Linked DNA regions of Homo sapiens: all the other regions are linked to region 2. The links come from fine-mapping of genetic effects on gene expression. A gene starts in region 2. Each other region holds a variant in brackets. All regions are shown on one strand. Distances are between the middles of the regions.

Region 1 (10,349 bases), 24 kb after region 2:
AAGTGTTCCTTTTGTCACTTAGTTACTGATTTTCCTGGGTTTGACATAAGTATTCTATGAGATGATATATATGCTTTTTTTGAAAGCTGATTCTCATGAATTCAAGTAGCTGAGTTCCTTTATGTTTCGTTTATTCACTAAAGTAGCTGACACAAAACACACCAAAACCTAGAGCGGTAGTTTTATGTAAATGCTCATGAGTTTGTATCAATAATATAATTGTTGATCCACTTATAATTCGTGCAACACTGTATGTATGTAGAGATTGAGTTGTCAATTAAAAAAAATGTGGCCTCTTTGTGATCATAAAATTGCCTTTTATTATTGAGGGGAGAGGGTTTGGGACAGCAGCTGCTAAAGCCAATAAAAAAATGACTGTCTTTTTTGCCTAGGCTGCCTGTCACCAGGCGTCCTCCCTACCTGACACTGTTTCGTCCAGAGTCCTAGCTGCTGATTCTCCACACAGCCCTGGAGAGACCATCTCAGGTGTCTCTCATCTCCCTGGCTTTGCTAGCCTCTTTTTCCTCCTTGTTCCCCATGAGGGTCATCCATCCCCCAAGCAGGTTCCTCATGTCCTTAGGACGAGAGCATTATCACTACCTGGAGTGCTTTTCCCTCTGTCATCTGAGCTTTTATGTGAACCTCCTCCAAGAAGGTTCTCAGCTGTTCACTCAGGCACAGTAGTGAGCACTGACTCTCCACTAGCCCTGAGCTTTCACAGGTCATCAAAGACAGTCCCAACCTCAGAGAGCTTCAAGTCGGCAAATGAGACACCAGCGAAGAGCATCGATCACCATGGTAAGTGTTGTGAGCAGCTGGTGGTGATGGCATGCTCACTGCATGCCAGGAAGTGTTCTAATAAACATCATCTCAGCAATCGAGAATGCAGGTCTGACTACTGTCTTTTTCATAGATAAACCAAAACACAGCTTAAATAAAATAGCTAAGGTGGCCAAGTCAGAATCGTACCCTGTGTCTATGGCTCCAGATGCTGTGCTCCCAGCTGTTAGGCCATACTGCGTGTCCTGATAGAACCAACGGAGTGCGCTTCTAAAAAGGTAGCCTACAGGTTATGACCCCTGCGCCTAGTTGAAAGAGATTTGGGGAAGAGGGAAGACAGTGAACAGTACTAAAGAGGGTTGAAAAAACACAGAGGGCGTGTTCTCACTCATAGGTGGGAATTGAACAATGAGAACACTTGGACACAGGGCAGGGAACATCACACACCAGGGCCTGTCGTGGGGGAGGGATAGCATTAGGAGATATACCTAATGTAAATGACGAGTTAATGGGTGCAGCACACCAACACGGCACATGTATACATAAGTAACAAACCTGCACGTTGTGCACATGTACCCTAGAACTTAAAGTATAATAAAAAGTAATAATAAAAACACAGTGAAGCTAAGCACTCCGGAGAATGAGGCCCGGAGAGGAGCAGTAAGGCTGGAGGGCAAGGTAGATGCCTGGGGCGTTTGGGCTTTCTGCAAGTTCTGTAGGCCTTGGGGCCACTGAAAGTGTTTAGGGGCACTCATTAGAAAATTGCATTTGGAAGTGTTTCCATGGCCTGGACTAGGCTGGCTGATGAGGACAGGAAGAAGCTACTGCAAAGCCCGCTATAATAGGACCTGAGCAGGGACCCGTGAGAGAAAGGCTTAGGAGGCAGAAAGGATGGTACTCTATCCGTAGCCCAACCTCATCAGCCAGTGTTCTGTGACTCATTTCTATTTGTACAGGCAGTACTTGTACTGTTCATTGGTTTTGGTTCTTGTCTCTTGTACAATATTGAAAGGATCTTGGAGACAGGAACGCAATTGCTTCTTCAGTGTTCGTTTAGCATCGGGCAGGTCAGAATTATTTTTGCAAAATGGCTCCATCCTACGGCCATGTCACACCATGTCATGCAAGCCTTAGCCCTCACCAGGAAGGTTCTGTCTGTTGCACCACATTCATCCACATTCTACTCACAAACACTGGTCATTGTGTTAGGCGATTTGGTAGTGCCCCTGGGTGATGTGTAGGCCAGCAGATCTGTCGCTTAGCAGCAGACTTCAGGCTTTTCATGATCAGTTATAAGCCCACTCTTCCACATCAGGATGCTAAATTGAATGAATCAGGCCATGAGGACAGAGGCCTGCTGTGCTTCATTGTTGCAGGGCGCCTCCCAGCCCTCTGTCACCGGACCCACCAGAATGATTTTTTTTTTCTCAAACAGGAAAGGGTTGGGAACAATCCCTACAAGATCAGATGTCCCTAAGATTTCCAGTATTTCCTAGGTTTCACTCAGCAGGAAATACCTCAAAAAAAAAATGGCCTTTCTTGTCATGTTTTGATACCTGAGAAATCAGGAAATGGAAAAGCCTGTGCTAAGCTGAGCTGTAAGCAACATCAGTGTCTCATTTGAGCCTTAGAGCAGACGTGGCATGGGCCAGACACAGCATCGACCCAGAATAAACCCAAATACAGCTCACCTGAGCTCAGTGCAGGCTGGGAGGCTGGCCTGGAAAGGTGTAGGTTTGGGGTGAGATATGCCTGGATTTGAATCATGGTTCCTGTCATTTTGTAGCCATGTAACCTTCTGTAAAACAGTCTCAGAATTTGGGGGGATGTGATGAGCTAACTACACATAAATGGCATCCTGCTAAGGGTAGACGTTTCATACGTTGTAATTCTTGTCCCTTTTAGCCATTTTCTTGTGCAAAAAGGGATAATATGTTAATGGATTATCAATCAAAGCAAGAGCTTAGGGAAAGAGTTTCAACACATTTAGGGAGTTATTGTCCCATATTCAAATCTGGGGGAAATTTGCTGTATTTCCTTCAAATAAAAGACCACAGTAACTTCTTTGAAAAGAACCATAAATTTCAAATATAAACATTCGGAGAAATTTCATTCTCTTAGTAGCTGATTAACTATAGACAAACCTGCCTTAATTGAGGAGCTGTTTTGAAAGCTCATTCCCCAGTAGGAACTCAATCTCCTGGTCCCAGGTGGGTCTCATCAGACAAGAGATGGAGGAGAGAGGGAGGTGCACCCTAGCCTCAGCCTCTATTGAAATACAGAGCCATGTGGTGGTTACATCACTGTGGACTCCCATCCTCCCTTGCTGCTGTGCAGTGTTCAGGGAAGGCTTCATTTCACACCAACCTTTAGCGGGGCAAGGGCTCTGTACCAGCGGTACTCAGCTTAAAACTAGCCTACTTTGAGGGCCTTGATGGGTTACTGCTTTTACTTCCACTAGCTAGTGATTCCGAAACTTTTCATGATGAAGTGCCCATTTATTGGGCCAGGTGTGTTGGCTCAAGCCTGTAATCCCAGCACTTTGGGAGGCAAAAGTGGGCAGATCACCTGATCCCAGGAGTTCAAGACCAGCCTGGGCAACGTGGTAAAACGCCGTCTCTACAAAAAATACAAAAATTAGCTGGTCATGGTGGTACATGCCTGTAGTCCCCGTTGCTCAGGAGACCAAGGTGAGAGGATCACTTTAGCCCAGGAGGTAGAGGTTGCAGTGAGCCAAGATCGTACTACTGCACTCCAGCCTGGATGACAGAGCAAGACCCTGTCTCAAAAAAAAAAAGAATAAAAAA[TAAAG/G]TACTCATTTTTTGTTCTCCATGGATTCTATGTCTTGAAGCAGTCCTCAAACTTTAAGGTGCAAATAAGTCACCTGGGGGTCTTGTTAAAAAGCAGATTCTTGGCCGGGCGCAGTAGGTAGCTCACGCCTGTAATCCAGCACTTTGGGAGGCTGAGGCGAGTGGATCACTTGAGGTCAGGAGTTCGAGACCAGCCTGGCCAACATGGTGAAACCCCATCTCTACTAAAAATACACAAAAATTAGCCAGACATAGTGGTGGGCGCCTCTAGTCCCAGCTACTCAGGAGGCTGAGGCAGGAGAATCACTTGAACCTGGGAGGTGGGGAGGTTGCAGTGACATGAGATGGCACCACTGCATTCCAGCCTGGGTGACAGAGCAAAACTGTCTCAAAAAAAAAAAAAAAGCAGATTCTGTAACAAAGGTCCAGGGCAGAGCCTGAGATTCTGCATTAGTAGCAAAGGCCCAAGTGAAGCCAGTGCTGTTGCTCTGCAGAACACCTTTGAATGGCAGGCTTTTGAAATATTTTCTCATTGGAAGAATCTTCTGTATTTATTAAATTCTGCTTAAAATTATTAACTTTCTTGTATATCCATGTTCATAACAGCATTATTCACAATAGCCAAAAGGTAGGAACAACCCAGGTGTCCATTGACAGGGGACAGGGGGTGAGAAATTTATTTCATGGACACAGATTCAGGTGGAAAAGATGAAAAAGCTCTGGAGATGGAAGGCAGTGCAGGTGGCACAACAATGTGAATGTACTGAATGCCACAGAACTGTGTACCTAAAACGGCTTAACACGGTAAGCTTCATGTTATGGATATGTTGCCACGGTGTTCACAAGTTATTAACTCAATCAGACTATTTAAATGCCCAGTAGATTGCATTCTGGGGAAATGGCTGTTTCAGGAAAATTTTCAGTGATTGCCACAGGGACCTCCCATGGGTGGGGAATGGAGTCTGGAGCACGGCTGCATGGCTCATGGAGAGAATTTGCACAGCCAGGTAGCCCCTGGTCCACTTCTACCCATATCTGGCCAGGTGCAAAGAGCATAGCTGTACCTTCTATTATCTCTCTCAATTTCTTATTTGCACTTTGCCCATGTCTATAGAAGGAAAAACTTGACTGATTAAAAATTACATTCACGGCACCTGTAGTCCCAGCTACTCAAGAGGCTGAGGCAGGAGAATGGCGTGAACCCGGGAGGCGGAGCTTGCAGTGAGCTGAGATCGTGCCACTGCACTCCAGCCTGGGCGACAGAGTGAGACTCCATCTCAAAAAAAAAAAAAAATTATACTCACGCCAGCCTGGGCAACATGGCGAAACCCCATCTCTAGAGAAAAATACATAAATTAGCCAGGCGTGGTGGCGTGCGCCCGGGGTCCCAGCCACAAGCTGAGGCAGAAAAAAAAGTAGCTACTCAGCTACTCAATGTTCACTCTTTAAAAATGCTTTTCCATCATCCTCCACCGTCTCCCACCCCCCACCAAGCAGCAAGATAATTCCCCATCGCTTAGCATCATATAGCTGCTTATGTGACCTTGAGAATGTCCACATGTCACAATGGACAGTCACTTAACACTAAGCAATGACACATGCTAGGAGTGGGGCTGGGCCTTGGGGCTGCTGGATGAATGAGACCCAGCCTCTGCCCTGGGAGTGCAGAGACTCAAGACAGATATGACCACGTGAAGAGACAACTGTAAAACAAGTGGTAAGTGCATCTACAGCCATAGCCACGGGGCACTGTGAGACCACAGAGCAGTGAAAACTAAGCCAGTCTAGGCTTGGCAAGGAGAGATGGAGTGAGGTGGGCAGTGGCTAAGGTGGGAAGACCAGAGCTGGGAGGTGAGATGGGATTTGGGTTTATCTTTACCAATAAGGATGAGGAGCCTGTTTCATCTTCCTCCAGGCAGGTCACAGAAGCTGGAACCAGTTGATCGGGCCGAGCCTGCAGACTCCCTCATCCTTTCCGGCCTTCAACACTGATAGCTCTGCTCTCTCTCCCCAACCTCAGTGCCTTCATCCTCCCCTGTGTTCCCATGGATGCTTGGTCCTGACTTTGCACCTCTCCCTCACACCCAGTGTCCTTTGTTTTTCCTCTGCCACTTGGGAGGCTGATGGGAGGATCACCTGAGCCTGGGAGGTTGAGGCTGCAGTGACCTGTGTTCACGCCACTGCACTCCAGCTGGGGTGACAGAATGAGAGCCTATCTCAAAGAAAAAAAAAAAACACTGCTCTGTATGATACTATCAAAGTGGATATATGTAATTGCACATTGTGAAATCTCATAGAATGCACAACACCAAGAATGGACCGTAATGTAAACTGTGAAGTATGGGCTTTAGTTAGTAACCATGCATTGATACCGGCTCATCAAGTATAACAAACGTACCACACAAACATAAGTAGTAAAAAAAAAAGGGGAAAGCTGTGTGTATGGTGCAGAGAAGGGGGGTTGTGGGAACATTGTACTTTCTAACCAATTCTAAAATTGCTCTAAAATTTAAGTATATTAATATTTTTAAAAAAAGTTTCGTTAAATTAGCAATATAATAGTTGCTTACCCAAGAAAATTCAGGTTTTCAAATATTGCGTTTTAAAAGCAATTATTTCCGGATGTGAGGGTGATCTGGCTGCAACATCTGTCACCCCACTGATGGCCAGGGTTAATTTGTCTGATCTGGCTGGCTAGGTGGATGTCTCCTTCCTCCCTCATCCGTCCACATGCGTCCTTCCAGACGCTGCGGACAACCTTCCCCAACAGAGGAGGGCCGTTCTTTGGGCAAGGGTATATGAGTAGCTGCACTCCCCTGCTAGAACCTCCAAACAAGCTCTCTAAAAGTAATTACTTCAAAGGAAGGATTAAGAGTTTCATCCTCTATGACAAAATTAATTTTTCCTTTTTTTTTTTTTTTTTTTGAGACAAAGTCTCACTCTGTCGCCCAGGCTGGAGTGCAATGGCACGATCTCGGCTCACTGCAACCTCCGCCTCCTGGGTTCAAGTGATTCTCCTGCCTCAGCCTCCCGAGTAGCTGGGACTACCGGCGCCCACCACCATGCCCAGCTAATTTTTGTATTGTTAGTAGAGACAGGGTTTCACCGTGTTAGCCAGGATGGTCTTGATCTCCTGACCCCGTGATCTGCTCCCCTTGGTCTCCCAAAGTGCTGGGATTATGGGCGTGAGCCACCGCACCCGTCCTACAAAAATTTTAGTAATAAAGGTTGTCCTTAATAGTTGAATGTGCACAGCTATAAAACCCACACAAGAAAGCAATCTGGCCTCCGCATCTAATATCTGCTCAAGATTGATGAGCTCTCTCCCCCTCCACGTTAGCCCCAGATGGGTTGTTTGAGCTGCCCACACCGCTCATTCCCTGAAGCCATCGTGACAGGACACTGTCACCTTTGTCATCCATTGTGTTGGTATATAAATCCACTCAACTGATCTGTTCCTGGCCAAGACCACAGACTTTTCCCCTCTCTGAGGAGCTAAGTCTGATTGTCATATTTTCAGTTCTGGTTGTTATATCAGCAGTAGTAAATTGCATTCCCTGTCAATCAATCGTGTTGTCAATTCACCCTCTGACAACTAAAGCAGAAGGCCTAAAATTACTGAGTGCCTACTCTGTGCCAGCTGCCATGTCAGACAAGCGGCTCCCCTGGGAAGACAGCCAGACTCAAGGGTAAGGGATCAAGGAAATCAGCCAGGAAAGTCCATTAGGCATTTTGGGGAAAGACCAGGCAGGAGCTAATGAAGTCTAGATGAAAAGTGACAGCTGAGAGAACTGAAAAAGGGGCAGATGTCTTGTTTGGCTTGATGGAGCCTCCAACTGATTACAAGTGAAAGCCAGGAGGGAGGAGCTTAAAAGGCCTGCTGTTCTGCAGGGGAATCTTCAGGTTCCTATGGGCTCCCATCTCCTCCCCAAGGAGTCTTCTCACTTAGACTAGCATTCCCAAAGCATGGAACCCAGTAATCGCTGCAGTGAGCCACAGGTGCTTTGGGGTTTCAGAAGAAAAGGCAATCTGTTGGCCTAAAGGAAGAAGCCAAGGCAAAATTAATATAAGTAGAGAGCTTATTTGAGCCAAGTTTGAGGACTGCAACCCTGGGGACATTGATTCAAGTTGCCCAGAATATATGCTCCAATCGGCAATTATAAGTGGGTTTTTAAAGGGAAAAAAGAAGAGGTAGTTCTAAAGTTGTTTACCAAGTATTTACATTGGTTCATTAAAATACCGTAAGCTTCTTTTTTTCTTCTTCTTCTTGTTGAGACAAGGTTTCCCCCTGTGTTGCCCAGGCTGGTCTTGAACTCCTGTACTCAAGTGATCTCTCACCTCAGCCTCCCGTGTAGCTGGGATTACAGGTGCATGCCACAGTGACTCACTCAAAATAGTATAAGCTATTGACTGGCTATGCGCTGTTCTTTGTATCACAAATTCCAGAAAAATGAAGATATGGGTGAGGGTCACATTGTGCAACTCATAGCATTTTAGGTAATTTATCAGCTGGTCTGGAAACTATAGGCAATAGAAGAAAAATACAAAATGCCTTTAAACAATTAACCCTGGGCATAGGGTTAATGAGACTCTCCTGTCTCTCTGATAAATTTTGCATTCCTCAGATTCTTCCGACTGCTCTGAGCTACTTTCCTTTCCCAAATGAAACAGTTGTAGTCACACTTCATAAATTGAAAATAACATAGTAATGATTTCCCAGAAATCTCATTTTGTTCCTAATAGCTCCTGCGTATTTAAATGTTGAGCATTTTCCACGAAGATGACATTAATCAAATGTTCTTAAATAACATTCAATTAGCAGGATACAGTTCATTCTGGTTAATATATTTTTCACAACATTTGCTTATTTCTGTTTAGTAAGTCTGCAATCTTTATCATTGCTATTGGGTTATATTAGATTGAATCAGTGGCTCGAAGGTATTCATTGAAACCTAAAATAATGATGGAGACAGTAGTGGATATTCCACACATCAGAATCATCTGTGAACGCACATAGTGCTCACGATTCCAGAATGATGTAGGATGGCAACCAGGACTCACTGAGTCAAGCAAATCTGCAGGTATGATGATCTTACATAAGCAGCTGAAGAGTGAAAGTAAGAAGTGAGAAGACAGTAGTGGATATTTCACGCATCAGAATCATCTGTGAATGCACATTGTGCTCATGATTCCAGAATGCTGTAGAATCACAACCAGGACTCACTGCGTCAAGCAAAGCTGCAGGTGTGATGATCTTACAGAGGCAGCTGATAAGTGAAAGTGGGTAAGAAGTGCCACAATGAACATCTGAAAAACGTGTTAGATTAAATCAAAGTTCTCCTTCCCCAAGTCCCCTGAGCAAAATATAAGACCTGGCCAGATGAGCTTATTATGGCTCAGAAAACAACACCCCTGTAGGAGCCAAGGGAAAAATGTCCTTTTTGCCCTCTGAAGGTTTGCTGAAAAAAATAACTCGCAAAAGGCAGATTCACTGGAGAAAAGGCATACGAATTTATTTATGTGCACATAGGAAAGAACCACAGAATGATTGCTCCAAACGCCCAGTGGGTTACAGAAGCTTACATACCATCTTGAGGTTACGAAGAGAATGGGAGCTCAGAGAATGGCCCAAAACAAGTTATGGTGGTAAATCAGGTTATGGTGCATGACAGGTTATGGCAGGGAGAGAAGAGGAGGCCTGGCTAGCAAAGGTGGTCTTGCTATGTAGATGAAACCTCACAGGTAGCAGCCTTCAGAAAGAATACATGGTAAATGTTTCCCACCTTCAAAGGTGTCAAACTCTCAGTTAATCTTTCCTACATCAAACAAGGGAAGGCTCAGAAGAAGCCAGGCTGCATCAAGGCAGATTGTGTACGATGCAAATCTCCCCACGAAAGACAACTTTGCAGGGCTACTTCTGTTTGCTGGCTCTCTGAACAGACACCTCAAAATGTATCAAAGAAGGATATTTTGGGGGTAAAATATTTTTATTTCTGTCAGTCCTACTTTGAAACTTTAAAAAACTTTCACATATTAAAAGCCATGTTGATGGCTTTGGAGAGATTTGGGTTAGAAGTTGTTAGATAGAGATAGGCAAAGGAGTGGGAAAAATTTGGGACAAGCAAAAAAGAGCAAATTTAAATATATTGTCCATATATTCTTGAATTAGTCTCATTTCTTTTTCTCTCTCTTTTTTTTTTTTCTGAGACAGCGTCTCACTGTCTTTCAGGCTGGAGTGCAGTGGTGTGATCTTGGCTCACTGCAACCTCCACCTCCTGGGTTCAAGCCATTCTCCCACCTAAGCCTCCTCAGTAGCTGGGACTACAGGCATGCATCACCACACCCAGCTAATTTTTGTATTTTTGGAAGAGACGGGGTTTCACCATGTTTGCCAGGCTGGCTGGCTGGTCTCAAACTCCTGGCCTCAGATGATCCACCCATGTTGGCCTTCCACAGTGCTGGGATTACAGGTGTGAGCCACTGTGCCCGGCCAAGTCTCTTAGTTCTGAAAATACATCAGTTCAGTTAAACCATTTTCTCCCATTCCAGAAGATGGCATTGCAGATGGGCTAGGCCTCTCTATACAATGCAGGTAAACAGATCTTTAATAAGAGGCATTTCTATGGAAACAGAAGAAAAACAGAGTAATGTCTGAAGTGGTCTATCTATAAACTAGCTGTTCTAGAGTTTCTGAAGTATCATCAGATTGCAGTAGCAATCTGACAGATTTTTCTGGTTTATAGTTCAAATCAGGTGTTC
Region 2 (10,590 bases):
TATTGCTACAATGATTACCATCCACAGCTTCGTATCTGCAGAGTAATGATCTAAGATATTTATTTCTGGCCAGATAATTCTTTGCAATCTATTATGTTTGGCTGCAAATGAAGATACTGAATTATACAAGGCAGAACCTTAAGTTCGTCTGGTGCTCTGTACCAACATGGAAATAGTGAATATGTAAATGTATTAAAATGAGATCACTCTAGGAACCTGTCTGCATTCAGAAAGAATTTTGACTAAGCTTATATTTAATTAATCATGTGCATATATACTTTTCAATATCAAGTCTTATTACTTGATTCAAAACAAGTGACCAATTCTAGTATGAAGTTTTTGTGACTACTTAATAAGAAGTAATTTTATGGCTTTTGTCATAAAGCGAGGCTTGTTTCATTTATATTGGGTTTTGTTTCTTCCCCTCCTCTAGGTAGCCTTTCCAGTAAATATATGACTCAGGGAAAAGCCTCAGCGAAGAGGACCCAGCAGGAATCATGAGGGAAGGAAAATGCAGCACTCTAAATGGCCACTCAGGCGTTCCTATTCACTCGGAAAATTAGGTTCATTTCACAGGACACAGCAGTGTAGATCAGGCTTCAACTTAACATTTAAGGGAAATGTCAGATTTTTTTTTAATTTAATGAAATTGTTAATGAGGAAAAATTTTTAATATAGTCTTATCTACCACACATCCCCATAGATTTAAGGATTTTAATAGAAAGACATGATGTATGTATTTAAGCCACGTTAAAAGAAAAAATATAACTATGGACCGGTATTCAGTGAATACAGTTTCATGGTTTTTAATTCTTTCAAAGCACATTAAAAATGGTGTGCTGATAAACCCCAAGTAAATTAACCCTTTTTCCGTATAAATCCATTTTTTGTTTTGAAGAGGGGAAATTATATTTATTGTTGTTTACTGAATCCTGGTGTGAAAGCATATCAGATATGTATGAACTGCTACTGCTGTACTTCCGATTTACGGACATCATTTTATTGCTATTTGTAGACGTGATAACATGAACATGAGTACCTATTTATGTGGGCCTTCAGTGGATGGGCAGTGCCACTCAGGTCTCTGGGGTTTCCCTCTCTAATTTTAAGTAAATTGACATATAACTACTATGCTTATAAAAATGAAGTAAGGAAAACAAGTAGTCCTGTTTGCCACTAAAAACATTTTCAAAGGAAAAATAAAATGAAAGTACTTTTTACTTTTTATGATACTCAGAAATTAGGATGAAGAACTTTTAAAATTGCTGAAGATCAAAGAGGTTATCTCTGCCAGTCACAAGTGTGGCTGGTGTCATTCTGGGTCTGACTGGAGCCCTCCTGGACTGTTTCTTTAATTTCAAAAGCCCTGCAGACATAGTACCTGGTCAGAACTATGCCTCGGTTTATTTATCATTTTGAAATAAAATCAGAATTTCAACCTGTAATTTTATCTACATTATTTTCTAGTGAAAGATTCCTAAATTTCCTGGGGAAAAAAAAAAAAGATCAAGGAGTGAGAACATTGGGAATGATAGTAAGAGGCGTTTAACAAAAAAGAAGAAAGGACAAATATACTCCCCTAAAATAGTGTACACAGACTTCCCTTTGACTTGTGCCCTTGCAATCATTGGTGTGTGTTAACATCCAGTGTGTTCCAGGCTCTGGGAACGTATAAATTTGTTATTATAAAAGGCACAGATGGGGGTGGGGGGGCGGGGAATTTGTAGGCAGGGAGGCTCAGGGGGTGCTTGCTGGACGAACATTCTGGATGTTTGAGGACTCAGAAGACGCACATCCCTGTGCCCTTCTTTTTTAAACAATTATTTGAAGACAGTCTAGCTAAAGACGAATCATATCAAAATTAAAGACTTCAGAATTTGGAGGCCATGGTAGAAAGAATTAGTGATCATTCCCTACTCATTTTGAACGCAAACTAATGAATGACGCAACCTGGGCTGATGCTGCTCTACGTGACCGTCCTCAGCTGCCCCCTTCTGGTTTCTTCTCTCTAACTCATGCATGAAAGTCGACTAGGCTTACAATGCTTGTCACACTTTTCTTTGAAAAGCCCATTGATGCTGTTCTGTTGTTTTCTAGCATTATAGCAGAAGACAAGTCTAAGACCAGGCTGATTTTTGTTCTCTTGTAGGTTTTGTTTTTCTGCCTGGGTGCTTCTGTTTTTTAATTTTATCCCTGTAATTCAGAAAGAAAATTACCTCAATATAGAAATACATCTATCCAGTGACTTTTCATGCTAGGAAAACTTCAAGTTTAATCTCTACATGACTGGCTTAATTTTTACTGTCATTCTGGTGCTTCCTGTTTCTAATATGGATTTTCTCATTGCACTTCTAATTTTCTGGAATTTGCCTCACTGACCTTCCTTTACCTCTCATTTCTTTAGTTTACTTATATTCTCTTCCTTTTCATAGGAGCCATATTTTCTTGTATCCCTTTAAGGATGTTAAAAGTTTCCTACATTTTAATCTGATCCTTAAGGTAGCTTCTGCCCAAAGTACTGGGTCTTTTGTTTGATTTTCAATACCTCACACTGGATCCATGGGACAATGAGCAGTATTTGCCAGCAGGCCTGGATAATGGATTGCCCTTGATTCTTTACCTGGATGTGGTCGCAGCCCCATCTTGCTGCCCCAGCTGGGATGCCAAAACGTCTGCTCTTTGCTAAGTCCATTGGCCTAGCTATCTTTCAAGTGCAGCCGGCTTATCTATCTTAAGCTGTACAAATGCCCCATTACCAAGGTTCTCCTTGCCACCTTCTCTCAGGAACAAAAATATGAAATCTCTTTTGTATAGCAGTGGTCCAGTGGCCCCAATCTATGATGTTTAAAACTCTTGCTTGGCTGGGTGCAGTGGCTCACCCCTGTAATCCCAGCACTTTGGGAGGCCGAGGCGGGCAGATCGCTTGAGGTCAGGAGTTCGAGACCAGCCTGGCCAACATGGCAAAACCCCGTCTCTACTAAAAATACAAAAATTAGCTGGGCTTGGTAATGGGCATCTGTAATCCCAGCTACTCAGAAGGCTGAGGCAGGAGAATCACTTGAACCCAGGAGACGGAGGTTGCAATGAGCCAAGATTGCACCACTGCACTCCAGCCTCGGCGACAGAGCAAGACTCCATCTCAAACAACAACAACAACAACAAAACTCTTGCTCAATGTGTGCAGGATCAGCAGTGTGCAAAAATGTTTTTAAATGTTCTTAGATAACTTCAGTGTATTTTTCTTCTTGAAATATGTTTGACAAATGGCTTCTACTTTTAAATCTTTCCTGAGTGGAAAAGATCCTGGATAAATACATCAATAGAGTTCAGTGTTACAAGCAAAAATATACACACACACGTTGAAAACAGAATTTATCAAACCCCTGTAAAACTGTAAAGCCCTCAGTAGTTTTTTCTTTGGAAGCAGGCATATTTGGACAGCAGCAGTCAAGAACTACATAGACTTTCCACTGAATGGAACTCTAGACTTAGACAAGGTCTGGCCCACCTCGTTTTCCAGCTGTGTGGCAGTCCCCTAATCTCAGGCAGTTCAGTTTCCATTCCTATAAAATGGAAACCATTCTTGGCTTTCCACACAGTTGTGATAATCAAGTGAGGTCTTACCAGGAAAACACTTCTTTAAATGTCTAGAACTATGAAACTAATGCCTGAAGTGCGGGGTGAAACAGTTCCCTATTGCAAGTTCTGTCACATATTAGTGGAAATCTAAAAGTGGTTACAGCTTGTAACTCTTTTGACACTTCCCATACCCACCTCATTTTGACACCACTGGACAGCTGCTGCTCTGAGATAAGCTCACATACTGCTTAAATAATCGTGAAAATTATTTATTCTAACATAACATTATTTCAGGGACTTGTGCCAGTTTCAAGTGATATTAGAAACTAACAAGTAGATTATGTGACTTAATGCTTATGTGCAAAACAACTAACCAAGTTAAAAACTGAATAGTGGGGTTTTCTTTTTTGTTTGTTTTTGTTAAATAGTGGGTATTAAATAGAGGAAAGAAGTCTGTTAAACATACACAGGATCCTGAATCAGAAAATTGAGGACTAGATGTTTTCAATAGTGTCTAATGCTCTCTACTAAAATCCTTGAGTTTCAGCATCTGTAAAACTGCCATGCCAGTGCTTCTGCCCTACTCAGTTCAAAGTTGTGAGGCTAGTATGAGATAATATAATATGCTCATGGAGTTTTCTGAATCTTGTAAAGTGCTGCACAACTGTGTAATGTGTCAATAACTGAAAAAAAAATGACAGCATCTTTTATTTTTATTAAATTTTAATTTTAGGGCTGTTTTAGGTTCACAGCAAAGTTAAGCAGAAAAACAGAACTGCATATATCCCTTGTTTCCACATGTGCCTCACTGTCACTCTGCACCACAGTGGTACACTTGTTACAATCTTAAACCTACATGGACACATCATTAGCTCTCAGTGCCCATAGTTTACCTTAGGGTTCACTCTTGGTGGTGTACATTGTGTGGGTTTTGACAAACGCATAATGATATCTATCCACCATTATAGTAGTTTCACAATACATGGCATCTTTAAATACTCATTAACAATTACCATTTGAGTGAGGCTGTGTGCCTTGCACCCCTCTAAGGGCTTCTCCTGTATTAACTCATTTAATCTTCACAATATCTGTAGGAGGGAGGATATGAGATCCCAAACCCCCAGGTAGTCAAAGATGAAGGCCAAGAAACAAACCCACCACACCACCACCTCTCTATGTCCCTCCCTCCCTCCCTTCCTCCCTCCCATCACTTTTTCAGTTTCTTTCTTTCGAGATGCAGTCTCGCTCTGTCACCCAGGCTGGGGTGCAGTGGCGCAATCTTGGCTCACTGCAACCTCCGCCTCCTGGGTAGCTGGGATTACAGGTGCCCGCAAACACGCCCGGCTAATTTTTGTATTTTTAGTAGAGACGGGGTTTCACCATGTTGGCCAGGCTGGTCTAGAACTCCTTATCTCAAGTAATCTGCCGGCCTCCGGCCTCCCAAAGTGCTGGGATTACACGTGTGAGCCACTGCGCCCGGCCCCCAGTTTCTTTTATTTTCTTTCTTTCTCTCTCTTTCTTTCTTCTTTCTATCTGTCTGTCTGTCTCTCTCTTCCTATCTTCCGTTCTTTCTTTTTTTTTTTGAGACAGAGTCTCACTCCGTTGCCCAGGCTGGGAGTGCAGTGGCACGATCTCAGCTCACTGCAACCTCCGCCTCCCAGGTTCAAGCGATTCTCCTGCCTCAGCCTCCTGAGTAGCTAGGATAACAGGTGTGCACCACCACACCCGGCTAATTTTTGTATTTTTAGCAGAGATGGGGTCTCACCATGTTGGCCAACCTGGTCTCGAACTCCTGACCTCAGGTGATCTCCCCGCCTCGGCCTCCCAAAGTGCTGGGATTACAGGCGTGAGCCACGCGCCCGGCCCCCAGTTTATGTGCAGATAAGGCTTAGGGGAAAAAAAAAAGCGTCCTCTTATTGTCAATGCGATTGCATTTCTGTAGCAGGAAGTCAGAACTACTTGATGGAATTTTGAACTATCCTTTCAGAAACTGCAGGAGATCGAAGATAAACTTGGCTTTAAAAAATGTTTCACTGATTAGTTCTTCCCACATTCAAACACTGCGAATCTGTCCTCCCCAGGACTGCTTCATAGACCCCTCCTGCCCTTTTTCCTTCACTTCTAGCACTTCAATGACAAATGCCACCTGTCTTGATGTCCTCCTCTCTTCATCTGCTAGCCCTGTCCTGCCAGTATCTCATTCTTCCCTGGCCCCTCTTTACCTGGCTTCCTGTGTATGCCTGGGTACCGCGCCTGTGCAGTGTCTGGTGCTCAGGAATACTGCATCAAAAGGCAGAATTAAGCCCCTGAGCAGCCAGGACAAGGTCTGACAACACGTTTTAAATCGAGTAATTGTTGCTCGCTATAAATGTGACTATTCACACTGCTGCCCAGTCACATTTTCAAGTAGGGTTGGTTCCCAGTTCAGCACCAGAATGAAAACTGCATTAGTCACCACCCTTCAGCATCCCCAGCAGTACAGCACGCTGGGGAGAAGGGTGGAGGGTGGCGATTATACAACTCTGCGGTAACGCCATGCTCTTAAGAACAGCCTAATTGGACCACAAAAGAAGAATGAAAATGGATGTAGATGTCTGGGCATCGGAACGATCACTCTGCATTTGAGAGCATAAGCTCCCAGTGCAGGGTTGACTTATGCGTCCTTAAGTGTCACCGCCTATGATGGTGTTTGTCACGGTGAGTATTAAAGCAGGGGGTGACGCTGCACCTTGCCCCGGGGGCAGGTGGTGAAGCTACGTGCATCCGGAGTCAGCAGGTCTGAGGTCATTCCTCGCCCCCTCCCGCCCGCTCCCCGACGTCACGCCGACTCCGTCCTCGGCGGTGAAGACATTCCTCCCGGGCCCTGCGCCCTGCAGCGTGGTAACCCCACTGCCGGAGACCGTGCGCAACCCAGCTGCTAGACCCCCGGCGTTGAGCGGCAAAACCCCGCCCCGAGCGGCTTGCCCCGCCCCCGGCTCGTCACTCATGCAACTCACCCAATGGTGGCGGCGGGGGGCGGGGCTAGGACTGAGGGCGCCGTGCGCCGAAGCTTGTGGCGTCAATGCGCCCGCCGTGTCCATGGAGAGAAGCTGAGGCGGCCGACCTTCGGCCCGAGGCACCGGGGCGCCGGGACGGCGAAGATGTCGGCTTCCTTAGTCCGGGCAACTGTCCGGGCTGTGAGCAAGAGGAAGCTGCAGCCCACCCGGGCAGCCCTCACCCTGGTGAGTGCTCGCGGCGCGCGGCGGGGCCCGTGACATTGCTCGTGTCCGCCCCGTGCAAGGGGAGGTCACGGCGGCCGGGAGTGGGGCCGCAGGGACGCGGACACGTCAGACCTCGGCGTCGCTCCGACCCGCCGCACAGCCTCGCCGCCTCCTTCGCCTCCGGCCCCTCTTTGCAACGATAAACAAGTCCCGGGCGGGGCTGCTCTCTTGGCCCCGGAAACTACGTTTCCCGTCAGGCCGCGCGGCAACCGCGTGCGGGCCGGAGGGGATCCCGGGGGTGGGCGTCCCCGGGGGCCGATCGCCTCCACACTCCTGCCGGCCTGCGCTGTTCGGCCGTTCCGGTTAAGCAGAGGCTGAACGTGCCCGGTGGCGGGGGTTCCCGGTGGTGGCCCGGAGTCCTAGCCTGGAGGTGCGTGGGGTGGGGAGGGACCAGGCTGTCCGAAGGACCGCTGTGTCGGGGCGACAGCGTTCGCAGAGGGCGAGCACAGCGACAACAAAGCCCCCGGCTCCTGCCGAGGTCACGGCCGCGGCGCGCAAAGCGTTACTTGCCGGTGTCCTGGGTGATTGAGGCCTTTGAAACTCCCTCTGTGCCTCTAGCAAGCCTAGGCTCTTAGGACAAAAGATGATTTCCCAGAGTGAGTTTACAGCCTTTTCTGGGTGAAAGGTCAAACACTCAGAGGGCACCAGAGTGCAACCATTGATTACTTAGAGAATTCACTGAGCTCAGTGTTCCGGCCGCACCGTTCAGTTTTTTAGTGGAAGGAAAATCCACATAACATAAAATTAGTCCTTTTAAAGGGTACAATTCAGTGCCATTTAAGACATTCACAGTGTCGTGCAACCATCACCTCTATCTAGTTCCAAAATACTTTCACCCCAAAAGAAAAATTTATGATCACGTTCCTACATACACTCCCCTTTTAGTGAAGGAGACGACTTTATGCAACCATTCGCTTAGAGACTGGGAAAAAAAACGATTTAAATTGACTCATCGATTCTGTTGCATCTAATGCCAAAAGGGCCTATTACCAGAAAATAAGTTTGTAGCAAAGTAGAAGAAAATTGTGATCAGGTGAGAGAATTTATTTTTATAATCAATTTTTTAGGCCTTTGATATTACCCTGATTATATATGGTACTACTAGTGTACTGATTATGTATCATTCTATATTACCTCTTTTCTGTAGGAGCAAGCTTATTTTCATACACCGTGGGATGTAGAATTAAACAAGGTTTTAAGAACTAGAGGGCACAACTCATTCTTTGTGTCTCTTTCAATCTCAGTAAGAATTATTCAGAATTCTTCCACTGGTAATGGTAGATCCAGGAAGAGCCAGAAGGTTCAGGAACAGTTTTTGCCTTTTCTTTTTTGCTTTTTAGCAACCCTATTAACTGGGTTTTTTGTTTTTTGTTTTTTGTTTGTTTGTTTGTTTTTGTTTGTTTTGTTTTTGGAGACAGGGTCTCACTCTATCTCCCAGGCTGTAGTTCAGTGGTGCAATCATGGCACACTGCAGCGTCAACCTCCTGGGCCCAAGCGATCCTCCCACCTCAGGCTCCCAAGTCGCTGGGACCACCGGTGTGCACCGTCATGCATGCACCTAGGGTCTCCCTGGGTTGCCCAGGCTGGTCTCGAACTCCTGGGCTCAAGCAGTCCACTGCCTCAGGCTCCCAGTGTGCAGGGATTACAGGTGTGAGCCACCATGCCTGGTCCCTGATGTCTTTCTCCATCACCATTTGACATGTTACCTCTTCCTTCAGAATTTCTTTTTTTTTTTTTTTTTTTTGAGACAGGGTTTCGCTGGGTTGCCCAGGCTGGAGTGCAGTGGCGTGATCTCAGCTCACTGCAGCCTCTGCCTACTGAGTTCAAGCAACTCTCTGCCTCAGCCTCCTGAGTAGCTGGGATTACAGACGCCCACCACCATGCCCAGCTTATTTATTTATTTATTTTTGTATTTTTAGTAGAGATGGGGTTTCACCATCTTCACCAGGCTGGTCTTGGACTCCTGACCTCGTGATCCACTCGTCTCAGCCTCCCAAAGTGCTGGGATCACAGGCATGAGCCACCGTGCCTTGCCCTTCCTTCAGAATTTCTATGTCAGTCCCTTTCTCTCCATTCCTAGTCATTCAGCAGACATTTATCAAGATCTGCTGTGTTTCAAGACAAATGAATGAGTTATACAGTTCCCAGCCTACGGGGCACAGTCGCAGGCCAAGCCTTTGCCACCTCTTACTAGGAGTAATAGCACTGCACATTCTCAGGCTTGGTCTCTCTCCACACTTGCTCCCCTCTGCTTCAGTACATGTTATCATAGCAGTTCTCAAGGTATCCATGTTGCCTGACTCAGCTGTTTTGATTAACTTGCAGGAGTCTACTGTCTGTACTCTGTTGTCCTACTTAAGTATGGCTGACTTTAGAAGCTTCTCAGAAGCTGTACCAGAGAGAAGGCACATCAATGCTGTTTTCCACACAGCCTGTGTTGGTGGGCTTGCAGTCATTTTAGTTCCAGCATTCGTGCCCTAGTCAGGACACTATGGCATGTATTGCTCTTTGTGCTTAGTTTATCATCAGCATGTATCGTCAAGTGCAAAAGTAGTGATGCCGTCAAAGGCCTAATGAATGGAGACAGATAAGAGAGCAAACAAAAGTATACGTAATTCAGTAAAACTGATTGGAAGAGGTAAATGTTACTTGGGTCTAATAAGTAGAGACAGATAAGAGCAAACACAAGTATACCTAATTCAGTAAAACTGATTGGAAGGGATAAATGTTACCTGGATATATAAATTTTGATGTTAGGAATTTGACATGTTGCAACATTTGAAAAGTGCTATATGTGTGGAGTCTACCAGATGTCAACAAAAGGCTAGGAAAAGTAACTGATAATATAACACAGTTCAATGCTGTCATTATCAGATTATCTACATCTTCCCTATTTCCCTACATATCTAGAAATTGACAAGTGGAATTGAACTTGCAGGAGCCAGATGTGATTAAAGAATCTGAAGAGTAAATAGTGCCCTGCTTGCAGACAGATTTATTTCCATCATTGTACAAGTCAGAGCAACTCTAATTTGTAGGACTGGGGTGGATCACAGCTGTGCATTAAAACTCAACCAAGTTCTATGAGAGAATGATGGTGCACAGCCACTATCATTCTTGATGAATTCATTGTGTACGGAAGGTGCCTTAGGGCTTAACTTTCTATTGGAGTCCAGTTGAGAAGCTAGGAAATGCTTAATGCTCAGTAAGGAACTGTGTGTTAGTTCATTGGACTAGAACCAGAAGTCCTTTTGAACAGTGACCAAGCACTAAGATTTCTATACGAAGGCAGTTTAGGAAATACTACACAAGAAGCACTGGAAGTAGCCTAGCAGTCTAACAGTGAAAGAACGGTTAAGTACGTGAGAGTAGATCCTGTTGGTGAAGGATGTAGTCATTGTAAATTATGGTTTTTTTTAAGTTTCAGCGTTATAAATCTTCATTCTTTGACTTATGCTGTGCAAATTATTTAATCTTTAATACCTAAATCACAATGGCAGGAATAAAAAGATGTTACGTTTAAACCATTAAACACTTAGAAGGTGCTCAGTAAATGGTGAATATATGTTTATTACCATGTATCAAATGAAAAAATAATTTGTTAAATTGTTTCAATGGAGGCTGCAAAATTATGTATATATGCCATGATTACAAACCTTTTTCTTTTTAGAGACAGGATCTTCCTCTGTCACCCAGGCTCATATGCAGTGGCATGATCATGGCTTACTGCAGCTTCAAACTCCTGGGCTCA
Region 3 (10,844 bases), 760 kb after region 2:
TATGAGTATGTCTATGTGTATGAGTGTGTGGACGTGTAGTGTGTGTGAGATTGTATGTGTATGAGTATGTGCATGTGTGAGTGTATTTATGTGTGCATGTGTGTATGAGTGTGTACATGTGTGTGAGTGTGTGTATGAGTGTGTGTGTATATGTGTGTATGTGTGTGTGTGTGTGCTGATGAGGTTTGTTGAGTGGAGGCTAAGTGGATAGAGACTCAAATGTTCGCTCCTGGCTGAGGTGGAGAAGCCCTGCTTCTGTGTATTTGATATTGAGGTGGAGAAGCCCTGCTTCTGTGTATTTGATATTGGAAGTTCTTTACGAGACTTTGCCTTTCTCTTTGAAAGAAGTTTGAGTTTCACTGATTAGTGTGAGACACTATCCTTGCACAGCATAACACTTAGGTGGTGGAGCAGCAAACATTCTCTGCTCTTCTTACAGAATTCTGGTTTTATTCAGGGTGGCAATAAATCTTAGGAGAGATCATAATTGATCCAAACCAATCACTGCCTCCTATTCCCTTTTACCAAATACTTCCCCAGCCTTCCTTACAGATAGAAGTAACCAAGGGACCAAGTTCTGGCCAATGGGCCATACAGGGAAGGTTTCCACAGAGCTTCTGGGAAATATTTCTTCCTGATAAAAAGAAAAAGACTCACTAAAAGGGCACCTTTTCAGCACCTGGCAATGCTATTGCTTCCTTCCTTTGAAAGTGGCTGTGATGCCTGGAGTTGCAGCATCCATCTTGAGAACGAGAACCAACAGGAAGCAAGTTGAGAATGGTGGAACAGAAATAGCCTGAGTCCTTGTTGCCATTGTATTGTTACCAAACCAGCTCTGGACTTCCTATTCTGTACTTTATTGTTTAGGCTACTGTTAGTGGGGATTTCTGTTACTTGCAGCCTAATGCACCCTAATACTTAAATTGATTTACTTTTTCCTTAATTTTCACACTGTTCAAAGTAGCATTGGGAGACATCTTCCATGTGTCTTTTCTGCTCCTGCATATCATGTAAGCAGAGGCACTTGCAGCTTCTGTTCTGGACTATTTTCTCAAGCAAACAGCTTTGGGAATGTAAGAATAGTGTCTTCTTTTCAAACAGAGAGCAAATTTGTTTGCTGACCAGTATAATAAAAACCACATCAATCTCTGAGGAAAAGGTTATGCAGTCTTGATAAAGGATTGGAGTTTCCTAAGTTTGGGATTTGAGTAATCTTTCGGAGCTGGAAACAAGACTTGATGATTTGTGTATGGAGGCAGAAGAAATAAAGAGAAATCAATCTTTATGCTCAATTTTGGGGACTTGAAAGCACAACTTTCAACTGAGGTGGGACACGTTGTGTAGCAGGTAGTAGGAAGGTTAAAAATAAATTAAAAAAAGAGATGTAGGGGGGATGTGTGTTGCTGATCAGCAAAGGGAGACCTAGGAATACTAATCATTAGTTTTCTTCACCTCCCAGAGAAGATACTGGTTTCTTTTGGGCTGCTTCAAAGCCCACGTCCTTGGCCTTTGATATTTGGTAGGGGCCCAGCACCCTGTCAGAGGCTGGCATTGGGACACCGAGGGGAGGGGCTGCTGTCTTTTTCAGCAGCATGTACTGTGTGCCAATTCCACATCAGAAACTGCGCTCAGTGCTGCAGAGATGGCAGTGAATAAGACATGACCCCTGCCCTGGAGGGGAAATGAGTCTAATGGGAGAAATAAATAATTATGGTAGAATTAGACAAGTGCTGTCTTAGAGGCATGCATCTCTGGGCTCCGGAGGCTCAGAGCTGAGAGGGGACATCCAGCCCTGCCTTGAGGAGTTGGAGAAGACTTCACAGGAGGAGTGATGTTTACGCTGAACCTAGTTTTTGTGTGCATGTCTGAATGTGCACACATGTGCAAAGCAGTTTAGAGTTCCAAAGAACTTCCAAATATATCACTTTGTTCAATTGCTATACACTTCTCTAAGAGATGTAGTATCATCCCTATTTCGCAACTGAGGAAACTGAGCCTCTGTCAGATATAAGAGATGTGCATGCAGGTCATTCATGTATTTGCCTGAACCAAGGCTCAAGTCCATGCCGTTGGATTGCAAATTCAGTGCTTTTTGAATGGCAGAGATGCTACCATGTAGATACCCCTCAAATCAGAACAGAAGAGTGGATATCCGTGCTAAAATTGCTTGGGTCTTTATCTATGCAAAGAAGAAAATTAAACTAAAAAATAAGTTAGTAAATGGGAGGGAAAGGAGTTTGTGGTAGGCAGAGCTCTGGAGATGTCCCCTAGTACCAGAGGCAGGGAAGGGCAGGGGATAGAAAAAGATGAAGAGGCGTTGATTAATAAGCACAAATATACAGTTAGATAGAAGAAATAAGACCTGATGTTCGATAGATCAGTAGGGTGACTATAGTTAACACTAATATATAGTACATTTCAAAATAACTAGTAGAGAATAATTTGAATGTTCTTAGCATAAAGAAAAGATAAATATTTCAGGTGATGGTTACCCTAATTACCCTGATTTGATCTTTGCACATTATATGAATATGTCCCAAAATACATACATCTATTATATATCAATAAAAAGAAAAAAATTAAAGATGTCCCTCAGGATTGCTGTCCTGGGTGATTCCATCAAACACTAACCTGGGTACTGCTGTGAAGGGGTTTTACAGCCAGAATTAAGGTTACTAATCAGATGACCTTAGAATAAATTGCCCTGGGTTATCTGGGTGGGCCCAATGTACTCACAGGAACCCTTCAATGTGGAAGACTCAGCCAGAAAGATTTGCAGATGGAAGAGGAGTCCCCAAGCCACAGAAAGCGATTAGAAGCTGAGAATGACCCTGGCCAACAGCCAGCAAGGAAATGGGACTTCAGTCCTACGTGGAAGGGAATTCTGCCAACAACTTGAATGAACTTGGAAGTCAGTTCATCCCCAGAGCCCCCGGAAAGGGGTGCAGCGCTGCCACCTTGACTCTAGCCTTATGAGACCACACAGAGAACCAGCAGAGCCATGCTATGCCCAGACGTCTGACTTAAAGAAACTGTGAGATAGTACATTTATGGTGCTAAATTTGCTAAATCTGCTAAACTTATAGGCATTTTTAGGGCTCAAAAGAACACAAATACAGTGGAGAGGAACTGGACGATAAAGAAGAGAAGAGAAAACAACCAAATACCAGTCGCCATGCTATCGTGCAATGAGTTCTACACGTCACTTATGAAACTACGACGTGACTGCTTTCATGAGCAAAACTGACCACCTTTCATATTGCTTGAGTTAAATATTTGATGTTTGGCTTCAGCTTCAGGTGATACTTTTTATATATTTTTTTGCAAGTGTATGGAAAGTTTGTTTCAATTCCCCATTGAGTATGAGAATAGGAAAATGAGAACAATATACCTTCCCCATTTAAAAAAGTCAAATTATTGAGAATGGGTTGAATTTTAAGGCTTTCCATGTGGCTAATATTCAGTGTAGAGTGATAGTTTGGTTTCAGTTTTGGAGAAAAAGAGATAAAGTATAATAAAATGAGATTGTTAAGCAGCCCAGTGCTGTCCTTGATGACTGCCAGGTGGTCTGGGAAGTTGCCCGACCCAAGGGGGACCACATAGCTCAGCCAGTTTTGGTGCCCATATTTGCATGGAGCTATTCACAATATGTGGATGTTCTCACTTCATAGCACTCCCTGCCACATATTCTCCTTTTCCTACAGTTTTGAATCCACTACAAGGTGCCATTTTGTTGGCGTGATTTTGTCCATCTTCACTTTTGAATGTCAGAAAGGTGGAATTTTCAGGCTGTTTTTACTGATTGTGTTCTCACCTGCACCTTTAGTGGATATGGGATTACTGATGATCAAAATGCCCTGAGCCGATGGGTCCTAAAGGAAAGGTGAGGCAGGCAGGAATGCAAGGGTTTCCCTGGGCCCAGGGAGGGCATCCTGTGGAAGGCAGCTGGGATTGAGATGGTTCTCCAGTGTCCCACTTGAGTTACTGCCCAACGGATGGGCCAGTGCTCCTGCAAGGCCATGGGATGCATGCAGGTGACTCCAGCCGAGGGCACTAGAGAGACTGCAAAGAATTGTGCCATCCAAAGGGCTCTGCAGGGTCTTCTGAGACTCAGACACACAGCTCTTGAAACACCTGTCCCAGGAGGTGCCAACAGCTGTGCCAACCAATAGGGAGGTTTGCAGCTGGGCCAAATCTAGTCCCCAGCTCTTAGCCTGGGAAGCAGAGGCAACCAACAGGGAGAGGACTGTGTTGGGACCCAAGTGACTAAAGAAACAGTGGTTGGTTTTCCTCTCTTAGCCCCTCACCCTGACATATACTGAAGAGTGCTGCCCTGAAGAAGAAGGACTCAGAAATAGACCATGACCCTTTCCCCGTACACATTCAGGGCCTCTCTGAAGCAAGTATTAGAGGAAGGAAGAAGATGAGGCTTAAACAGAATTTGAGCTTAAATCTGCAAAATGTCATGAAGGGAAGGAAATGGGAGAGCTGACGAGGTAGGACTGAGGAAAATCACTGGAGAAAAAGAAAACTGTTTCATGCTCATATCCGTGTAGAGTTGAGAGCAGCGTGATTGGTAGGTCCAGGTGTTCAAAGGATTGCACTGGCTCCACATGGCCCTGGAGGTCCTGGGTGAAGTATGAGGTTGAAGTAAGGAAATGGCTGGAGGTGGAATAAGCTGACCGAGGAAGAGTGAGTTCCCCATCTATGCAAGACTGCAGGCAGAGATTGCAGAGATTGCAGCAGACAGATACTCCTTAAAGTCACTTCAAACCTGGGGCTCCTCTTCCTCTCCAGGGATCGTTGGGAGAAGTGGGGGCTGGAGGTGGCACAGGAGGAGACCGCAGGCTGGTGGTGGTCTGCAGCCATGCTGCCTCTTCATTGATGGCCCTGGGGCCTGCCTGCGCATGAAGATAGGGGTGGTGGTGGGGCTACACTCCCCTGGCTGGGGTGTCCACTTGCCCTTGCACTAGACTAAGGGTAGGTTCATCTGCTGGTCACCACTTCCTGCTGGTCATGGGCCTGATGACGCTTAGAGAAAGTTGAACTAGCTGGTACATTGGGTCTGACCAAGGATTCTGATGGGGAGTGCAGGAGTGACTGCCACCCACAGGGTATACACCTTGAACACTTAGATTCACTTTTGTTGGAGACCTTTAGGCCACTCTGCTGCTGCTCTGGTGGGAGGGCCAGTCATGACTCCTCCCTTTTTGTCCTGCCATCTCTCCTGTGGATACGGGGTAGCCATGGACATCCAGATATGGGAAGGGCTTGGGTGTGGAGCCCTTGCTGGGGGCCGCTGACAGGTGACTATGAGACTTAGTCAAGTGGCTTCATGCCCTGGTGACTGTTGAGCTGAAGATTTTGGGGGAGGGGTGGAGCAGCTGGTCTTGGCCAGAATGTTTCAGTCTAACCGAGAGGCTCTAATACTGTGAGTCTCGCAGACATAGGTCTGTTTCCTTTCCCTGCGCTCCCAAAATACGCTGCACAGCAAGTGTCCTCACTTCCTCTCCAGCAACCAGCTCTCCATCTAAAGTGCTATTATAAGGGGGAGCCCTTGTCAAGGCCCCAGGACAGAGGAGGCCTACTCACCTCACCTTTCCAGAGCCCAGAGAGGTCACCTGAGTGACAGAGTCCACAGACGGGATGTACTAAGTCCACCCAGATAGGAAAGCAGTTAGAAAATTTAAGATGGCAGTTTCTTACAATTCTGATAGGCATCTTCCTGATCTACCTGCCTAGGAGAGAGAGAATGGGGGCCTCGTGCTGAGTGTGAGATGGCTGGACCACATAA[G/A]AGCAGCGTGTGTGTGTGTTGTGTGTGTGTGTCTTCTCAGTGTAAGCCTAACAAGTGTACAGATCCTGCTGTGTGTCAGTCAGGCCCCTGGAACAGCTTGTCAGCATGGCTTATGTCACAAAGTGTTTCTTCAAAGTGGTAAACACACACACAATCCACATTGTGTTTCAGGAAGACAATGGTTCAAAGGGTCTGCCAGGCTATTTTTATCATGGAAGTCTGGAAGGAAAATGATGTCACATACCGAGAAAAGTGCCCAGCTATTCCAACAGACCACAGCTGAAAAATTCTTGTTTTTATTTGTTTCTCTCAGAATTGAGATCATTCAAAAAAGGTGAGTTTAAAACCCTTTGTTCCAGAAAGCTCTGTAGCTCACACTGTGCCTGGAGTGCCTTTCTTTCCTGTGTTTTGTCAAACAGACATGAAAGCTTCTGCAAACTAGGTGCCTGGATCAACCTGGGTGAACTTGTGGTAGGGGAGCTGAGGCCTTCTGACAGCAGATGGACTTGGCATTGGAGAGAGCAGATGGCTGGCCATGTTAAAGAGATAAAAAAGAAGAGTGATCATATTAGAGTTTTCCACCTCTGCTGTGGATCTTGGACAAATTTCTGAACCTCTCTGATTGTCATTCGTCTCATCTGTAAAGTAGGGTCATACCTACCTCAGAAGATTGTGGGTACTGATAAGATAACGACTGAAAACAGCTATTACAATACTGCACATATACTAAGTGTTAAACAAATATTATTAATTCCCTTCTCTCCTTTCCTTTGACTTTGTTTTTTTATGACCATATTTTATTTTTCCCTATTTTTTACTAGGGAAGAAATGTTACAAGGATTCCCCGAAACGAATTCTGCCCTACTGCTTTCAAGTAAGGAAAAGAACAAAGAAGAAAGAAAGTCACAGGAAGCAGAAAGAGTATAGATGTGATTTTTTTTTTCTGTTCCTTTTGGGAATGGGAGTTCTTTCTCTTCAGAAAATGGTGGTGCTACTTGCAGATGAGTGAGACCCTGATGTAGTCCATGCACTGGCAGGGGACACTGGGGATTGGGTTTTGCATTCGGGGTTGTAAATAGTCTCTTAGAGGCAGGTCCAACCTTCTTTGGCCAATATTCCCAGAATAACCCAGGCCTGCTTTTGGCATTTAGGTTTTCAGACAAAAGATATCTTTGTTTGTGCTGCTATAACAAAATACCACAGAATGGGTAATTTATAAACAATAGAAATTTATTTCTCATGGTTCTGGAGGCTGGGAAGTCCAAAATCAAGTTCAGCATGTTGGGTTTCTGGTGAGGGCTATGCTCTGCATCGAAGATGGCATCCCATCGCTGCATCCTCTGGAAGCAACAAACGCTGTGTCTTCACACAGCAGAAGGGACAGAAGGGCAAGAGAGGGCTCCCTCAAGCTGTTTTATAAGGGTGCTAATTCCATTCATGAGGGCAGAGCCCTCATAATTTAATATACCATTAAACTGGAGATTAAGTTTCAATTGGAATTTTGGAGTGGATGCCATCATTCAAACCACTGCAACCTAGGAAGCTCTAGGGAGTCCATTGGGCTCTTGGTGAGAATTGTATTCTTTAACATCTTATTTCATGTTTGCTCCTTTATCTGTGTTTCTTATTTGTTTATGATAAGGAGGCTGGAGACAGTTGATTATCATTTTAGGGGAAAAATGATGCTTTCCCAGGAAGTTCCCAGGACAGAAGAAAGGGAGGAGGCACTGAGTGGGAGAGAAGAGACACTGTTTCTAGAACATGGTGCAGGAAGCCACAGCTTCCTGTTCCAGTCAGAGGGAGCATTGGGTCAGCTTTGGGTTGGGGTAGGTGTGAAGGGGTGGATGGTAATTTCTCTATCATTATACAAAATCTGTAGATTGACCAGCTTGCTGCTGTCTTCTGCTCAGGATTCATGTAGCAACTACCACCCTGGGACCTCTTTTTTTTGAAAGAAAGAGTCTCAAAAATGGCCAATCCAGTAAGCAAGGTGCTTGGGGACAGTTATTTCACAGAAGGTGCTGTGTGGGCATGGGAGGAGTGTCCACCTCTTGCAAGAATGAGATTCTTGCCTACTGCAGTGTTAGTATTTAGACCTACTTGCTTCATCTGCTAGTCAGGATTTTGTCTGGGGTTATTGGTTTGGGGCAAGGGGACAAATAAGCTGGGGTGGACACTGGGAGACCTGGGCAAAGGGAGCTCAGAGGATGGGCATCTCACTTGGACTTGAGTGGCTAGGGAAGTCTTTCTTGGGGAAGTTATGTCTGAATTTCAGCCTCTGTAGCCAGAGAAGGGACTTCTGAACGGTAGGAACAGAATATGCAAAAGGCTAGAGAGTGACAGACACAAATATTGGATGAGCTACAGATGTTCAGTCTGGTTACTGCAGAATATGTAAGGGATAAACAAGAAGGCTAGAGACGGGGAGCAGGGTCTGGGCTGTGCTGGGGTTTTACTCAGATGTGGCTGTGCTTGCTGGATTGTAGATGCTCTTCCTGTCAGCACCTGCACACAGAGGCTCCTGCTAAGGATAGGGTGGAGAAACTAGAAGAACATGGCACCTGCTGGTGGTGCCTTGTCCATATCTTCTTGCTCTTACCTCCTCAATGCACACAGGCCAACTTTCAACACTGCCAGCACTTACATTGCTTCACCTGAAGGCTTTCTCTGTCTTCCAAACTGACTTTATTTGCTGCCAACACATCAGGCTGGAAATGCTAAAAAATTAGGAGCCACACTCAACCAATGACTCTCAGGATTTGATGAATAAAGACCCCAGCTCCCTTACCATGCTGGGTGGAGTGTGGGTTTGACACTGGCTTTCAGAGTTTCCTTTGTGAGATTAAACTCTATTTCTTCAAACTTGCACGTTCAACTATGCTCAGCACTCAAAGTTCAGGTTTCTGGTGCCCTTTTAATCACCAGGAGCCAAAACAACTTCCAAATTTGGTCCCTTAAAGATGATTATATTGGCAAGGAGATCGTTTGGTCGCTAAAGAACCACCAGTGCAGAAGCGATCGTGGTGCTATGATTTTAGGGACCCAAGACCCTTCTACCTTGTTACCTGGTGTGTTAGTCAGGAAAACCTAGGCTATGCTGCAGAAACAAACAATCCTAAACATCTAAGTGGCTGAAAACAACAAGGTTTTATTTCTCCCTTGTGCTAGCTGTCTATTGCAGATCAACAAAGAGGCATTGTCCTTTTCCGAGAGTCATGCTGAAGGAACTGCCACTATCTGTAATGTTTTTGGCAGCCACAGCAAACGCCTTACATCAGCAATAGAATGTTCAGCCTGGAAGTGATACATGCAACTCAGTGGCCAGAAACCTTCCTACAGGTGTTCCCACAGAGCAATGAGAACTGAATATGGCAAGCAGCACCAGTGACTGTCACACTCATTTACAGCAGGCTTCCATCTTGTGGGTCAGAGGACTGTTCTACCTCTGACTGGAACATCGGCATTTCAGCCAGCAGAAAAGGCAGAAGAGAGGTGGAGGCTGCACTCCTTCCCTTTGAGGTCCTGGTTCCAGACATTGCACACACCTACCTCAGTACATCTTCTATTGGTCCGAATGTGGTGCATGAGCAGCTGGGAATTAGAGTTCTCATGCAAACAGCCATATGGCCAGATGAAACTTGTGGGAAAAATTGGAGGATAGATTTTTGGATATCTTAAAGTCTCTGCCACACAGATGATGAGGAAGACACTCTGGCAGAAATTCTATTGTTTTGGGTTGATAGTGGAGTATCTGGGAAGGATGTGGTGAGGGCATCTTTTGGGGTAGTTGGCTTTCTAAGACAGCACTACCCATTCTATTCTGTTTCTGGCCTTAAAGTACAGACTTCCACAGGGGGAGACCTTCTTTATGGTGTATTTGATAAAATACTCAAAATACAGAGGCTCGGCAAATACTTGTCACAGATAATTTGAGAATTTCCCCAGGGTCTAGTTTTGAGTTGAGTGGCCACGGGAGGTTATGGCTGCTTTTATTTGTTATGAATGAATTTTGTATCTATACAGATAGCCACATATCCCTATCATATTTGAAATAGGGAGGGATCTTATGAAGTTTTGTGAAAAATTCTATATTCGATGAGTAGTCCCTAAAACACAGCCTGGAATTTCGACCTAAAGGAGGGCTTTTCCCCTTCTAATTATAATAATCTTTGTGTTTATCAGCAAAAAACTACTTTACACCTTTATCAACAATGATGAAGATTGTGGGGCTGGGGTAGGGGTGGGTGGGGTGTAGGTATCAGTCCAGAATCTGCCATTAACAGCGTGAATGACTATGGATAAGACCTTCCTGGGTCTCAGTTTCCTTATTTATGAAACAAAGTGTGGTAGATCGAAGATAGCCACAAATTCCCATTGACGAGTGGCATCTAATTCCACTCCTCCTGAAACTGGGCTAGCCTAAGTAACTTGCTTAACCCATACAATGTGGCTGGGACTTTTGCTGAGGCAAGCTCATAAGCAGCCCTCCAGCTTCAGTGTGGGCCTCTTGGTACCTTCTCTCTCATGACCCAGCCACCATGCTGTGAAAACCCCAAGCCACGTGGAGAAGCCATGTGCAAACGGACACTTCAGTCTCCAGCCCTGGAAATTTCAGCTGCCAGGCAGCACCCACACCTGCCCTGGGAGGGAGCCATCTGGCACGTCGAGGCACCCGAGCCTTCAGACGATGCACCCCATCTGACCACCGCAACCTCGTGGGAGACCCCGTGAGAACCTCCAGCTAAAGCCAGAAAACCCCTGAACCATATATGAGAGAATAAGTGATTGTTTCAAGTTACCGGTTCTGGGGTGGTTTGTTATGCAGCGACAATTGACTGGATCATTAAGGATTTGTACAGACTTCCTTTCTGGGGCTTTTAAGCTTACTAAGCATCAGTTCTCAGTAAGTACAACCCGTCCCTCAGGGCGGGTGAGGAGCCTCGGGTCTGCCAAAGCCGGGCCCTGGCGGGCTGGAGAGCGCGAGCTGGGGCGCCTGTCACTCCTGCGCGCACAGGGCGATCGCGCGGAGTCGGGGGCGGTTTCCTGCACA

Direction of the effects. Alleles are on the strand shown, and positions count from the first base shown. SD is a standard deviation of normalised expression in the study named. Not every link is listed here.
In carriers of allele A in region 3, the expression in CD8 T cells of the gene that starts at base 6,640 in region 2 tends to be lower than with G alone (large effect, 1.5 SD a copy in CEDAR).

What was found. PIP is the estimated chance that this variant, and not a neighbour inherited with it, causes the effect.
Region 1: its variant is fine-mapped to the expression of ISCA1 in whole blood (TOPMed, PIP 0.99).
Region 3: its variant is fine-mapped to the expression of ISCA1 in CD8 T cells (CEDAR, PIP 0.95).

Annotation. Positions count from the first base shown.
Region 1 is chr9:86,254,508-86,264,856 of GRCh38, reverse strand. C9orf153 (chromosome 9 open reading frame 153) reads left to right here and starts at 5,200. Exons shown (of 4, transcript NM_001276366.4): 1 at 5,200-5,307. It overlaps ISCA1 (iron-sulfur cluster assembly 1), which reads left to right. Exons shown (of 4, transcript NM_030940.4): 4 at 1-311. It also overlaps the pseudogene RN7SKP264. The variant TAAAG/G (reference allele first, on the strand shown) is at 3,588.
Region 2 is chr9:86,278,588-86,289,177 of GRCh38, reverse strand. ISCA1 (iron-sulfur cluster assembly 1) reads left to right here and starts at 6,640. Exons shown (of 4, transcript NM_030940.4): 1 at 6,640-6,800. The coding sequence starts at 6,720. It overlaps LOC124902194 (a long non-coding RNA gene), which reads left to right and starts at 7,097. Exons shown (of 2, transcript XR_007061634.1): 1 at 7,097-7,209; 2 at 7,725-10,590. It overlaps TUT7 (terminal uridylyl transferase 7), which reads left to right. Exons shown (of 27, transcript NM_024617.4): 27 at 434-1,445. The coding sequence ends at 501. RefSeq lists enhancers at 6,240-6,519, 6,640-6,789 and a silencer at 6,960-7,259.
Region 3 is chr9:85,522,936-85,533,779 of GRCh38, reverse strand. No RefSeq gene overlaps it. Among named protein-coding and RNA genes, the nearest start is that of AGTPBP1, 210 kb to the left of the region's middle. The variant G/A (reference allele first, on the strand shown) is at 5,795.